Homo sapiens: one gene and its partner. The protein of the gene in region 1 interacts with the protein of each later gene in a pairwise test. Each region holds a gene or a part of one and is shown on either strand. Other genes may lie near its edges.

Region 1 (3,833 bases):
ACACTTTGTACACACATATATTTTAATACTTATTAGCTAGTTGTGTATGCATTAGACTTTGTGACAGCCTGGCTCATTGAGAAAACACTGACTATGGAGCTAGAACAACCTGGCTTCAAGTCCTGATTCTGTCCTTTACTAGTTTTATGATCATAAGCATATTATTTAATCTTTTTGAGCCTCAATCCTCATCTTGTTATTGTGGCCAATACTACCTGTCTTATAAGATTGCAATGAAGTTTAAAGCATCATGTGTAAAGAGGCCAGCCCTCTCTGGTAGTGTCTAATAACTACTTCTTTAATTAAAAAGACTTGGATTCTGCCACTCCTTTGACATTGTACCTTCTTTTCCTGGAATGTTAGCTGGCTGAATCAGGAAGACTTGATCAAGCTGATTACTAAAAATGTCATTAATTTTTTTATTTGTTATGTAACTAGGGTTTTAATCAGCTTGCAGTACTGACTTAGATTTTTTTTGCAGTCTCTAAGATATTGCTTTTTTAAATGTTATTTTCCACACACTTAGAACCTTGAGAGATTTGTGTTTTCAGAGACACATGAAATATCTTTTTGATTGTATTTTTTATTTTTATGTTTTTAACAGTAGGTTAATATTTTTCAACCTTTTCTTCATTATCCTCCCCCCAAGCTGCCTGTTTAGACATTTCTTCCTAATTACCTCTACCCATGAAATTTTAATTCCACAAATACAGTATATCTGTTTATGTGTAGTACTGTATGTGTATCTATACTTTATACTTAATAGAGTAAAATTTTGTTACCCTTCTCCACAAAGAACCAATTTTCACCCCCTTGGAATGATATCACCCTTGTCAAGAATGCATGCATCAGACCTTTTAGACATGATTTGATGGAACAGATTAATGGTTCAGTGCTTGGGTTCTAGATGGATAACTCTGAGAATGAATTCTGCTTGCTCTGTTGATTAGCTGTGTGACCTTTTGTCATTCTCCTTAGCTTTCTAAAGCTTCTCTTCTTCATCTGTAAAATGGGAATACTACTATTATCATCCTCATAAGGTTGTGCAGTACATTTAGCATATATTAATTGCTCAACATATATTAGCTATTACTTTATCATCTTAATAATCACAACTTTAATTTTGTTCATTGGAACTTAAGACCTGAGTGTTAAGGGGTATCTACCTGTTCTCTTTATCCATTTTTTAAATACTGACTGCTGAAAATGTAAGCAATGTTGGTAACATAAGATACCTACAGAACTCCTTAATAAAGAAAAGCTAATCAGAAAGAAAATTCCTTAGTGTACAAATAATTACATGTAGAGTATTAAAATGAATTTACACAATAGCTTGAACCATAGGTTATTATTTTATTAAGTAATTCTGGGTTCTGTTTTTAGATATTTGATTTAATGGATGCCAAAGCACGTGCTGATTGCATCAAAGAAATAGATCTTCTTAAGGTAATTAATGAACTGTTGACTCTTTTGAACATAACATGGTGATAAAAGTGATTTACTAAAATATCACACTTAAACACAAAAAGGTTTTTAAGACTTATGCTACACTGATTTCAAGTAATATTATATAAGGTTAAATTTCAGTATACTGAAGAATGTAGTTATTTTTTGGATTTATTGTTAAATAACATAATCAGAACATTTGTAGGACCAGCTTTTTTTTCTCATTTCAAAGTAGGAAATAGATAAAATGGGCATAAAACATTGAAGAATTTTTTTTTCTTGACCACCCCAACAAGACATATTCTAAAGGTTAAGTAATATAAATGCAAATTAGCATTATCTCAACATGTATTATATTGAGAATGTGGACTAATCAAAATGGTTCACATGCATTTTCTAATGTTTCAATACTTTTTCCAGACTTAGACAGAGTGCATGTAAAGAGTATGCCAGGAATTAGCTTTTTAGTTTCTCATCTACTAAGAATATGACTGAGATTTCAGTTATTTCTGCACTGCTTCTTTTATAGTGAAGTTTCTTTTGAGAAATACTGCGGCCTATGTTGTATTTTTAACTTTTAGTTAAGACTTCGCTCTTTTTTTATGCCATCCGTTTGTGTTAGTGCCTAAAATGAACCAGATTTATGCAAAAAGGAAGAAAGTAAGGTCAAAACAATGTTTTCTGACTATTCTGTTAGTTGTAGTTATTTCTTGGCACATGAAGTAGCTGGCTTAAATATATGTAAACTTTTACTGTGGAAATAGCATGTCATCATAGAAAATTTGCAGCGAAAACTTTAAGTAGAAAGAAGAAAGTCACCCATACTTTCTGCATAATTTCTCAGAGAAACAATTCATCTTGTATTAATATGTTTAAAGATTGAACAAAAGGATTGCAAATGAGTAGGGACTGATACGTATATTTCTACAAGGTAAAATTTTTCTTAGGGATGATTTTATGAATTGGCTCACATGAATAAGTCCTGTATGTTATTTGATATAAAAGCAATAGTTAGATATAGTATAGTAGGTACCAGCTGTGTTTTGTCTACTAGCTGGAGTTATTCTAGGACCAACCATAACTTCCAAGTAGGAGTAAAAAGGGATACTTTATTTATCATTGAGTGTTCCTAAATGAAAGTTCTCATTTTGAGGATGTAATTTTTAGCAGTTGGCGACCTAATTCTATCATTTACTTCTTGCATCTGTTGATATGCTTATTGGGCATAGCAGTACTTTTAAATTAAGATTTAAACGTAAAATATATTCTTTCTAATAAAGAATATTAAGATAAATTAATTTATACCTAGTTTTACTTTTAATAATTGTAATATTTGTTTCACAATTCACTAAAGAAAAGTATACTGTCATGTTAAGATTTCTGTAATTTAAAAAATACGGTGAAGTTTGTTCTTAAGTACAAAACTATAAGTGACTCTTGGATATTTACAGTAAGAAAACTTTCTGATGCCTGTTTTATTTTCTCAGCAACTCAACCATCCAAATGTAATAAAATATTATGCATCATTCATTGAAGATAATGAACTAAACATAGTTTTGGAACTAGCAGATGCTGGCGACCTATCCAGAATGATCAAGGTAAGTTTTGAAAAAATTGTCTTAATGTTTTGTTTTGTTTTTTTTTCTAATAGAATTGTCTGTTAAACACATAGGGATATTAGATATTTTAAACTAAAGACCTCAATGCAAAGCTTATCTGATAGATATGTAACAAATAGTAGATGGTTAGTGATCATAATTCTGAAACTGGTTTACTTGGTGATGTTTACACTGATCAGCTTAAATATCTAAACACCCCAAAACCAACTTGGAAAGAGGCCAAGATACTTGTCTTCTGTAAGTTGAGTTAAAGTTTTGCTGTTTGATTCTCTGAGCAGACCATGCTTGATCCTGTGTCTCTGGACATGAGTAAAAGGAGGTAGAAAGAGACTCTAGAGCAGCTTGACCTGTTTCTTGGGGGGGAATCCATCAAAGAAAGTGGGATTTGCAGTCAGACCTTGGATATCAACCCCACATAAAAGTTGTTTAACCTTCTTTTCTAAGGGCATATTAATTCATAATTAATATAATTAAGTTGTTTAACCTTCTTTTCTAAGGGCATATTAATTGGGTTTAAGTTCAGCTGCAATTAATAGAAACCCTTAAATAATAGTAGCTTAAAAACTGTTTGTCCTTGGGCCAGTTACTTCTCTGTGTCACATTTTCTAAAAAACACAGTAATAATAGAACCTACTTTATAGGATTGTTGTAATGATTGAATTAATTAGTATTTATTAAGAGCTTAGAAGAATGCCTCACACATTGTAAGGCTATGTAAATGTATCTGCTGCTGCTATTATTATTGTTATTGTTATTATTTCTCTGTCA
Region 2 (3,833 bases), on another chromosome or scaffold:
TCTTTCAATACTCAAGTACCTCATCCCAAGAGTTAATATCTGTCTTCACTTGGAAACAAGTTTCTAGTGTAAAAAGAGCCACTACTGAGCCTAAAAGGAAAAGTACAATAACTAAAATGAACAATTCCTGGACAGGCTTAACAAAAGACTGAAGATGACACAAGAAAAAGTCATTGAACTTAAAATAAATCAATAGAAATCATACAATCTGACAAATATAAAGGAAAAATTTTTTAATGAACCGAGCCTCAGTTAGTTGTGGGATGATATTAGAATTCTAACATACATGTAATTGGCAATATCAAAAGGAAAAAGAAGAGAATAATTGGATGAAAAAATACTTAAAGATGTAATGGCTAAATATATTTCCAATTAGGGAAAAATATAAACTTATGTATCTGAGAAGCTTATCCAATTCGCCAATCTGACTAAATATAAATAAAACGACATCTAGGCACATTATAGTCAAATTGTTTAAACTCAAAGTTAAACAGAAAATCTTGAAAACAGTCAGATGAAAAAAATGACATTACATACAAGGGCACAATAATATGAAGAACAGCTGAACTCACATTATAAAGGAGATCAGCAGACAACGAAACAGCATATTTAAATTGCTGAAAAAATCAACAAGAAATTTTATATGCAGGCAAAACTCTTATTCAAAAATGAAGGCAAAATTTTAAAAAACCATTATCAGATGAACAAAAACTAAGAGAATGAATTGCCAGCAGATCTATCCTACAGGAAATGCTAATCGAGGTTGTTCAGGCTGAAGAAAAATGATACCAGATAGAAACTATGTACCAGAAATGGTACATAGGTGAAAGACAAACACAAATAAATATACATTTTTTCTTCTCTTAATTAAAAAAATACAGATTGCTATTGAAAGCTAAAATTATAAAACTTTATTGGAGATTTATAACAAATATAGATGTAACATATGACAACAATTTCACAAAGAATGAGGTAAATGAAATTATATCATAGCAAAATTACTATATTTTATGAGAAGTAATATAATATTAACTCTAAGTAGACTGTATAATAAGTTAAATATGCATATTGTAATCCGTAGGATAAACACCAAAAATACACAAAGATACACAGTTGAAAAGCCAACATAGAGGGCTGGGTGCAGTGGCTCACGCCTGTAATCCCAGCACTTTAGGAGGCCGACGCAGGTGGATCACCTGAGGTCAGGAGTTCGAGATGGGTGTGGCCAACATGGTGAAACCCTGTCTCTACTAAAAATACAAAAATTAGCTGGGTGTGGTTGCACATGCCTGTAATTTCAGCTACTCAGAAAGCTGAGGCAGGAGAATCGCTTGAACCCGGGAGGCAGAGGTTGCAGTGAGCCGAGATCGTGCCACTGCACTCCAGCCTGCGCAACAAGTGCAAAACTCCATCTCGAAAAAAAAAAAAAAAATAGAAAAAGAAAAGAAAAGCCAATACAGGAATTGAAATACCTAAAAATATGTAATTAAGCAAAAAAGAATATAAAAACGAAACAGAGAAAGAAAAAGAAACAGAATAAATTAAAAAAACAAAATGGTAGACTTAAATTCAATCATACTGATAATTGTAATATATGAAAATGGACCAAGAAAAAGGCAGTGATTTTTCAAACTGGAAAAAAATGAAAAGCCCAACTCTATACTGACCACAAGATTCACACTTTAAATATAGAGACACATATAAGTTGAAAATAAATAAAATTATATATATATATATATATATACTATGAAAATACTATTAAGAAGGCAAGAGTGTCTGCATTCTCTATTAATATCAGACAATATAGACTTTAAGACAAGGAGTATTGCTGGAGATAAAGTGGGACATTTCATAATATAAAAGGAAAAATTACTCAGGCAGACACATTTAAAATTATGTGTGTATACCTAATAACAGAGTATCAAAATATATGAAAAAACTCAAAAGAACTAAAAGGATAAGTAGGCAAATTGACAATAATAGCTGGAGATTTGAAAACCTCTTTAACAGTAATTGATAGTATAAATAGACCAAAAATCGATAAGGATATTAAAGGTCTTAGCAACACCACACAATGCCATAACCCTAATGATATTTAGAGACTACTACACTGCACAACTACAGCACACACAAGCACACATGGAATGTTCATAAAGTCAGTCCACATGCTGAACTAAAAACAAGTCAACAATTTTAGAAAATTAAAATCTTAAAGAATATCTTCCATAGTAGCAATAGAATTTAACTAGTCATCAGTATCAATAAAATATCTGTAAAAATACCCAAGTATTTGGAAATTAAATATACTTTTAAACCCATGGATTAAACAAAAACATCATAAGTGCCAAATAGTTTGAAATAAAATGTAATGTAAATACTACATTCAGAAATTTGTGCTTGCCAGCTTAAGCAGTACTTAGAGGGAAATTTATGATTTCTAGTGCTTATATTTATTAGCAGAAAAGAAATATTTAAAATCAGTGACCTGACAGGCACAGTGGCTCACACCTGTAATCCCAGCACTTTGGGAGGCTGAAGCAGGTGGATCACTTGAGGCCAGGAGTTCAAGACCAGCCTGGCCAACATGGTGAAACCCTATGTCTCTACGAAAAATGCAAAAATTAGCTGGGTGTGGTGGTGGGCGCCTGTGTTCCCAGCTACTCAGGAGGCTGAGGCAGGAGAATCGCTTGAACCCAGGAGGTAGAGATTGCAATGAGCTGAGATCCAGCCACTGCACTCCAGCCTGGGCAACAGAGTGAGACTCTGCCTTCAAAATAAATAAATAAATAAATAAATAAGTGAACCAAATTTATACCTTAAGAATCTAAATAAAGAAAAGCTTCTACTAAGTAAGTATAAGAAACACAAATATAGTTTTTAAAACAACAGCTAAAATCAATAAAATACAAACTAAATAAAATTAACAAAGGTAAAAGTTGACATTAATACTGATATAAACATTTAGTAAGACTGGCATGAGAGAGACGGAGAAACCTCAGATGATCAGTATTAGGAAAGAAAGGGGATATCACTACAGATCCTAGAGATATTTAAAAGGTATTAAAAATGTTTTTAACAACTTTGTGTTAATAAATTGGAAAAATGAAGTGAAAAACACAATTTACCAAAACTGACTCACAATGAAATAGAAAAATTTTTATATGCATATTTAGTTTTCGATTGCAGCTATAATGGATATTTAAAACCACACCCACTTATTGTTTTCTGAGCCAGAAATCTCAGCTAGGTCCTCTGCTCACTTTGCTCAGGTCCACCCAGCTAAAATCAATGTGTTGGCTGGACTGGCCTTTGATCTGGACAGTCTAGGAAAGATTCCACTTCCAAACTCATTCAGATTGTCAGCATAATCCAGTTGCTGGTGGTTGTAGGACTGAGGTCCCTGCTTCCTTGACACACAGCCTTCTTCATCTTCACCCCAACAATTCTTTTCATGTTTTGAAACTGACTTCTGCCACAACACTCTAAATTCAATGAGAGAAAGTTCTCTACTTTTAAGAGGTATTGTAATTAGATTGGACCAACCTGATAATGCAGGTTAATCTCCCTATTTGAAAGTTTATAATATTAATTATACCTGCGGAGTCCATTCTGTTACAAAATGTAACCTATTCACACGTTACAGGGTTAGGCCATGGAGAATTTTGGGAGGGATGCTATTCTGCCTAATACAATATACTAAAGGGAGATACATAGATAGATAATAGAGATATTAGTATATCAATGAAATCTTTAAAAATTAAAACTCTTATTTAAAATTTTCAGAAAGAAAACTCCAGGCTCCGCTGGCTTCATGGTGAACTCTAGTAGACATT

Evidence for each region.
Region 2: the proteins of NEK7 (region 1) and RAB3C interact in binary tests that used the Homo sapiens proteins (3 or more experiments, as listed by UniProt).

What each region holds. Positions count from the first base shown.
Region 1 is NC_000001.11:198,261,192-198,265,024, forward strand, and holds part of NEK7 (serine/threonine-protein kinase Nek7), read left to right. Parts: intron 1-1,383; coding exon 1,384-1,446; intron 1,447-2,933; coding exon 2,934-3,044; intron 3,045-3,833. UniProt on the Homo sapiens protein: Protein kinase which plays an important role in mitotic cell cycle progression. Required for microtubule nucleation activity of the centrosome, robust mitotic spindle formation and cytokinesis.
Region 2 is NC_000005.10:58,589,498-58,593,330, reverse strand, and holds part of RAB3C (ras-related protein Rab-3C), read right to left. Parts: intron 1-3,833.